Homo sapiens: one gene and its partner. The protein of the gene in region 1 interacts with the protein of each later gene in a biochemical or structural test. Each region holds a gene or a part of one and is shown in the gene's direction. Other genes may lie near its edges.

Region 1 (3,748 bases):
GGCTTTTTGTAAATTGAGACATGAATGCCTGATAGAGCACTGGTATCTTCCACATGATGTTCACGGTGCAGTGAGATATCATGTGCATTTCAATAAGTACATTAACACCTTTGTGTTTAGCCAGGTGCGGTGGCTCATGCCTGTTATCCCAGTACTTTGGGAGGCCAGCATGGCCAATATGGTGAAACCCTATGCCCACTAAAAATACAAAAATTAGCTGGGCATGGGGGTGCATGCCTACAATCCCAGCTACTTGGGAGGCTGAGGCAGGAGAATCATTTGAACCTGGGTGGCAGAGGCTGCAGTGAGCTGAGATCGCGCCACTGCACTCTAGCCTGAGTGACAGAGCAGGACTCTGTCTCACAAAAAAAAAAAAAACCTTTTTTTTTTACTACAGATTTTAAATCCAATTCTTAGGAGCAACCTGGAGAAGAAAGGGTACTTTTTGAATGATTTAAATCTTTGGGAAATGGGGATAAGGCAGGTTGTTTGTTGGAGTAAAAATACATTATAGGCTGAGCACGGTGGCTGACGCCTGTAATCCCAGTACTTTGGGAGGTCAAGGCAGGCAGATCACCTGAGGTTGGGAGTTTGAGACAAGCCTGACCAACAGGGAGAAACCCCGTCTCTACTAAAAATACAAAATTAGCTGGGCGTGGTGGCGCATGCCTGTAGTCCCAGCTACTCAGGAGGCTGAGGCAGGAGAATTGCTTGAACCTAGGAGGCTGAGGTTGCAGTGAGCTGATACTATGCCGTTGCACTCCAGCCTGGGCAACAAAAGCTAAACTCTGTCTCAAAAAAAAAAAAAAAAACAAGCTGGGAGCTGTGGCTCACACCTGTAATCCAAGCACTTTGGGAGGCCAAGGCCAGTGGATCATGAAGTCAAGAGATCGAGACCATCCTGGCCAACATGGTGAAGCCCCGTCTCTACCAAAAATACAATAATTAGCTGGGTGTGGTGGTGCATGCCTGTAGTCCCAGCTACTCGGGAGGCTGAGGCAGGAGAATCGCTTGAACCTGGGAGGCAGAGGTTGCAGTGAATTGAGATCGCACCACTGCACTCCAGCCCAGGCAACAGAGCAAGACTCTGTCTCAAAAAAAAAAAAAAATTATAAATAATCAGACATGAAATGAAGTCCTAATTGTAACCTGTAAATACTTAGCTCTTTGATCATCTAAGCTTTAGACATAAGAGCGGAAAAGGACATGAGGCAGATCCCAATTTCTCTGTTCTCTGTTTTATCAAGATTTTGTATATTTTTATTTTGTATATTTTATTTTAAGTGATATCCTTAGTTATGATAAAAATAGCATATAAGAGGAGGAGGATATAAAATCCAGTGTTTGACTTTTGGGTTCTGTAACAGCTGTCTTTTATATTTAACCTGCACCATTATCTTTTGGTGTCCTGGATAGGTGTCCTGTTTGCCGGTACTGTCAAACGCCCGAGCCAGTAGAAGAAAATAAGTGTTTTGAGTGTGGTGTTCAGGAAGTAAGTAATGGGTGATGGAAAAGAACAAAGAATGCAGCTTTAATTGTCATGAGTTTTCTTCTGCCTGGTATGACTTAAGTTCTTTATTTTTAATTTATTTTTTATTTTTTATTTTAAGAGACAGGGCTTACTGTGTTGCCCAGGCTGGTCTCGAACTCCTGGCCTCGAGCGGTCCTTCCACTTCAGCCACCCATAGTGCTGGGATTGCAAGTGTGAGCCACTGCACCCAGCCTAAATTCTTTAAAATTTTTTTTCTTTTTGTCTAGGGTTGGGCAAGACATATGAATACACAAATTATGTTACTCCTGAGCTAAATTTATTCCTTTTTTCTTTGCACTTTTGAAAGGCTTAGACTTTTACTGATGAATTGTGAATTTTTTTCTTGCTGTTCACATAGTGCTCCTTAGAAATCAGCAAAAAAAAAATGACCCATAAAAGCATCCTTGATTGTTGGGTTTTAAACATACATTTAATCACTCAGGCTCCTGTAGAAACAGTTTTTTCTTTTTCTTTTTCTTTTTTTTTTGAGACAGGGTATCATTCTGTTACCCAGGCTGGAGTGCAGTGGCATGATCATAGTTCACTGTAACCTCAAATACCTGGGCTCAAGCCTTCCTCCCATCTCATCTTCCCAAGCAGCTGGGACCACAGGTGCATGCCACCATGGCCTAGTAGGTTTTGTTTTGTTTTGTTTTTGTTTTTTCTAAAAAATTTTGTTTTTGTTTTTTCTACAAAAAAAACATTTTGTAGAGTTGGGGTCTTGCTATGTTGCCCAAGCTGGTCTTAAACTCCTAGGCTCAAGCGATACTCCTGCCTCAGCCTCCCAAAATGCTGGGATTACAGGTGTGAGCCACTGTGCCCAACCAACAATTCTGTCTTCTAGTGTCTCAGGTTCCTTCCCACTCTGAGTGAGCTGGATCGATTATTTGTTTGTTTGTTTGTTTTAAGACAGAGTCTTGTTCTTATCACCCAGGCTGGAGTGCAGTGGCACGATTTCGGGTCACTGCAACCTCCACCTCCTGGGTTCAAGCGATTCTCTTGCCTCAGCCTCCTGAGTAGCTGGGATTACAGGCAGCTGCCACCACGCCCAGCTAATATTTGTATTTTTAGTAGAGATGGGGTTTCATCATGTTGGCCAGGCTGGTCTCGAACTCCTGACCTCAGGTGATCCATCTGCCTCGGCCTCCGAGCCATCGCGCCCAGCCAGATCATTTATTTTTATTTAACTAATTAAGATCTTACCTCTTCCGGCAGAATCTTTGGATTTGTTTAATATGCGGCCACATAGGATGTGGACGGTATGTCAGTCGACATGCTTATAAGCACTTTGAGGAAACGCAGCACACGTATGCCATGCAGCTTACCAACCATCGAGTCTGGGACTATGCTGGAGGTGAATACCACTCTCTTTTCTAATTTGGACTCATTCTGTGTGGAAACTTTGCCTTCACAACGCCTTCACTTTCCCTCCCAGCTTGAAATGTCATCTTTTGACAGCTGTTGCAAACCCAAATTCTCAGTTTCCCTGAGGGCACTATTTTTCTAGGAATGTCTTGAATCACACATTATAAAGGGAGTTAATACTTCCATTCTTGCTTTCTCCCTCCCCTCTAAAATTCAAATGATTTGACACTTTTAAAGAAATATTGTAAGGCATTTAAATTAGATCTGAAAAAAAAATTTTGTCAGAGTTAAAAGTGTACAGAGACCCTTTTCATTCTAAAGAAACACACTTTTGTTGACTCTTTCTGTAGATAACTATGTTCATCGACTGGTTGCAAGTAAAACAGATGGAAAAATAGTACAGTATGAATGTGAGGGGGATACTTGCCAGGAAGAGAAAATAGATGCCTTACAGTTAGAGGTAAGAGATTTAATGAGTTATCACTCTATCTGTTTCTACTGCTCTTTACTATTCTAATTTGAAATATTTGTCATTTACCTGGATGTACATTTTTTTTTTAAAGTTTGGTCATGGCCGGGCGCAGTGGCTTATGCCTGTAATCCCAACACTTTGGGAGGCTGAGGCAGGTGGATCACCTGAGTTCAGGAGTTCAAGACCAGCCTGGCTAACGTGAAACCCTGTTTCTACTAAAAATGCAAAAAATTAGCTGGGCATGGTGGCACACACCTGTAATCCCAGCTCCTCGGGAGGCTGAGGCAGGAGAATCGCTTGAACCCGGGAAGCAGAGAATCGCTTGAACCTGGGAAGCAGAGGTTGCAGTGAGCCGAGATCGGGTCATTGCACTCCAGCTT
Region 2 (3,748 bases), on another chromosome or scaffold:
GAAATACTAGATTTTTTTTCAATAAAATAATTTGAGGCCTGGCGCGGTGGCTCAGCCTGTAATCCCAGCGCTGTGGCAGGCCAAGGCAGGGCGGATTGCTTGTGCTCAGGAACTGGAGACGAGCCTGGCCAACATGGCAAAACCCGGTCTCTACAAAAAATACAAAAATTAGCCGGGTGTGGTGGCGCACGCCTGTAGATCCAACTATTTGGGAGAATGAGGCACGAGAATCGCTTGTACTCGGGAGGTGGAGATTGCAGTGAGCAGAGATTGAGCCACCGCACTCCGGCCTGGGTGACAGAGCGAGACCCTGTCTAAAACAAAACACACATTAAAAAAAAAAAAACCACAAACAAAACCTGCAATTGGCCCTCGAAGGGCTGGTTCCCTCAGTCAGCTCTGCACGGGTGCGCCCCCTTTCTCCCTAGAGGTCAACAAGCGACTGCGAAGGAAAACGCCGCCACAAGTTTCTTGCTGTTTCTGGAGAGACCTCTCAGAGCGCATGCTCTTCGGATAGTCGGTCTGTAGCGCCATTTTCGTATGGAAGGGACTGCACTCTGATTAGGTACAGCCTTAGGACGCCCAGCGTTCAAGTTGTTCAAACAGTACGTAGAGCCTCGCAGAGACAAGTCAATGGCCTCTTTTAGCGGGACTCCTGCCTGGAGCGCTTCAGCTGAGACTATGTAAAGAAATTCCTTTGTGTTAACCTTCCTCCTTGGACCAGTGGACTCTCCTCTCTCTCCTGTTCCCTCCGCGCCCGCCCAGGCTGGCTCAGCGGTCTCGCCCCGCCCCTCCGGGACCGGAGCACTGTAAAGATTAGGCATCTGTGATGCTTTTGCGCTCACATTGGCGGCCCAGATGAGAGGGCGTGGAGAACCAGATGGGAAACTTTTTGTCCCGTGAGAACAAAGTACAAGTTATATCAGAGTCTGGTATGTGTAGAGGAAACCAATACATGTACTGTGAGCTAGGAGCTGGTGCTTCTTTTTCAATTGTATTTTTTATAAAGATGCAGACCCCCTCAGTGTTGGGCGTGGGGGGTGGCTGAAATGTTAGCTAGAGGCGAGGCAGGGCACGGAGATCTGAGGTTTTTACGAGTGTGTGTGTGTGTGTGTGTGTGTGTGTGTGCGCGCGCGCGCGCCCTACAAGAGTTTAGAAGAGCATGGGTGAGTGGGCGAGAAAGAAAGAGAATGAGAGAGAGAGAGAAAAGAAATCTGGAGTGGGACAAGACTTAGAGGGTGCAGAAAAGAAAGGGGGCGCCAGCACATCCTAGCCTCCGAGGCCGCGACAGCGCCTTTGGCGATGTCCACTCTCAACCCCGCCGTTTCATTCATAAGTTTCTGGCCTACAGGCCCCGCCCGCTCCCCTGGGCCGAGGGCCCCGTTTCCTGAACAGCAATTGGTGGACGGCAACAAAGCCTTAGCAACCGGCTCCTAGTGACCCGCGGGGCGCCTGGTAACTGGGGCTGCTGCGGAGAAAGGAGCGGGGCTGTCCCTTTAAGGGATGGCCGCGGAGTCGTGAAAGTGGAGGGGGCTGAGGGAGGGCGGGGAGGAAGGTCTGGGGGCGGACCCAGGGGGAGGAGGAGGAGGAAGAGTAACTGCTGAAAGGAGGTGGCGAAGGAGGATCCGGAGCAGCTGCTGCCAGCCCGCGGGCACTGAAGTCCTCCCGGCTGCCGCTCGAGTAGCCACGGGCGCGATCGGGACCAGAAGTCTCCTCCTCCATGATCACTTTGGAAGCCGGGGGAAGACTTTGCCCTGCCCTGAGAGCTGGTCTGCGTTTCCCAGGCGCGGCGGCGGCGGAGCAGCAGCTGCAGCAGCCGAGTCCAAATAGGAGCGGCCACAGCCAGGGGCGTGAGCGCCCCGCGCGGAGCGAGCTCGGGTTCCCCTCGGAATGTCCCCGGGGCGCCCGGCGCGCTGACCCCGAAGCCGCCTCCGCCTTCGGCGCCTGCTGCCTCCCTCGGCCAGGCTTGTTGTTCGGGACTGTGAGCTTCCTGGCTCCTGGGCAGTGGGGAAGCCCCCGGGGGCGAGTGACTTCAGCTGGCCACGACCCAGCCCTCCCCCGTGCGTATCTCGCTTAAGATGGCAGCGGAGTCAGGGGAACTAATCGGGGCTTGTGAGTTCATGAAAGGTGAGGAGCAGCCGCCCCGCATCTTCCAACGCTTTCTTGCCCCCAACTCTTCACTTCCCGCGCCACTGTCCCCACCTTCTCCTGAGGCTGCCAGTGTCCTGCAGCCGCTGCGCGCGCTCTCGTCCCCTCTAGGGACTCTCCTTTCTCCGAGGACCCCCTGCTTCCGGCTTCTCTTTCTTGTGTCCCTTGCTCCCTCTGCAGCTCCCTCGGATGGCCTCTCGGCCTCGTAATGGGACAGCACCGGCTTCTGCCCGTACTCCGGCACTCAGCAGCTCATGGGGAGCCTGCTCCGGATGCTCACCGGTCACCTTTACTCCACCATCGCAGGCTTCGGTTTTCGGGACACCCCCAACCACACCCCCCAAGTCTCTCTCCCTTCCTCTTTTTCAAATCTCCGAAGCTGCGTCGGGAGGCTCACCTCTTTCTTCCCCTTCTCGCAGCTGCTGAGGTCTGGAGATTTGGGAACCAAACTTGCACCTCCAGTTCTGCGGGTACCCCCAGCTCCTGCCTACTCTGCTGGCCTGAAACAAGGGAAATGTGGGTGCTCTGAGCCCCGCTGAGTTCCTCGGTCAGGTCCTCCTCTTGCCTAACTGTTGTGCTCTTGAGTCTCTAGCTTTCTGGGAGGGATGAGGTTTCTGCAAGAATTCCACGTGTTAATGGGGTCTTTAAATTGTGATCCTTCGTATGTTACCACCCACCTTCACTTCCACTTCTCTACTTCTCATATGTTTTTTCTGTCTTTTAAACTTGTCTTTCAGATCGGTTATATTTTGCTACTTTAAGGAATAGACCAAAAAGCACAGTAAATACCCACTATTTCTCCATCGATGAGGAGCTGGTCTATGAAAAGTAAGTTTATGTTTTGTTTTTTTTTCTCTTGGCCATTCAGCTTGTTCTTTGACGAGGAAACACTATGCACTTTTATGGCAGTTTTATTCATTTCCCCCCCAATGATACGAGTAACAATATCAATTTTTTAAGACTCAGGTGCCTGGGGAGAAGTTCAGAGAAAATTGACAGAATTTGAACCTTTCAACACTTCAGTTCTTTTAGACATCTATCTGTTTTAGTTCTTCCTACCACCACAACAAACAGCAACTGGAGATTCCTAACATTCCCCAGAGTAGGACCAGGGAGACACACTGTCATTGCCAGACTCAGTAATTGGCCTGTGAATCAGTCACTAAGTATTTATGGAGTGGCCATAGGGTACAGGGCAGTGCATGTATTACAGGTGCTTGAGCTTTATAGTTTACAAGACTTCTGTTCTATCTCAGGATGTTTTTGTTTGTGCAGCTCTTTTTCAGAAAGTGGGACACATTAACTGCGGGGAGCTGTATCAGAGTCACATTTATGACTAACATTTTATCTGACATATTATTGATTCTTTTATTTGGGTACCCCAAACTTTTTGATATTATTTTCTTTGCTTCTAAGGAAATGATATAGCAGTGCTGATTTATTTTCTTTGATTACTTTGCTTCTGTGGGATTAGGATTTGAGAGTGTAAAATAAAAGTAGGGAACTGTTTTCTGTGAAAGACCACTGATCTACAGGAAAAAGATATCTTAATACTTCAGGCATAGTAAAACATTAATTGAAGAGAGATAAATCTTTATTC

What was found. Proteins that work in one complex are often made in the same cells at the same time.
Region 2: the proteins of BRAP (region 1) and CDC14A form a complex in vitro, tested with the Homo sapiens proteins (one study listed by BioGRID).

The regions. Positions count from the first base shown.
Region 1 is NC_000012.12:111,658,344-111,662,091, reverse strand, and holds part of BRAP (BRCA1-associated protein), read left to right. Parts: intron 1-1,416; coding exon 1,417-1,492; intron 1,493-2,746; coding exon 2,747-2,885; intron 2,886-3,246; coding exon 3,247-3,356; intron 3,357-3,748. UniProt on the Homo sapiens protein: Negatively regulates MAP kinase activation by limiting the formation of Raf/MEK complexes probably by inactivation of the KSR1 scaffold protein.
Region 2 is NC_000001.11:100,350,877-100,354,624, forward strand, and holds the start of CDC14A (dual specificity protein phosphatase CDC14A), read left to right. Parts: upstream 1-1,629; 5' UTR 1,630-2,078; coding exon 2,079-2,127; intron 2,128-2,885; coding exon 2,886-2,976; intron 2,977-3,748. UniProt on the Homo sapiens protein: Dual-specificity phosphatase. Required for centrosome separation and productive cytokinesis during cell division. Dephosphorylates SIRT2 around early anaphase.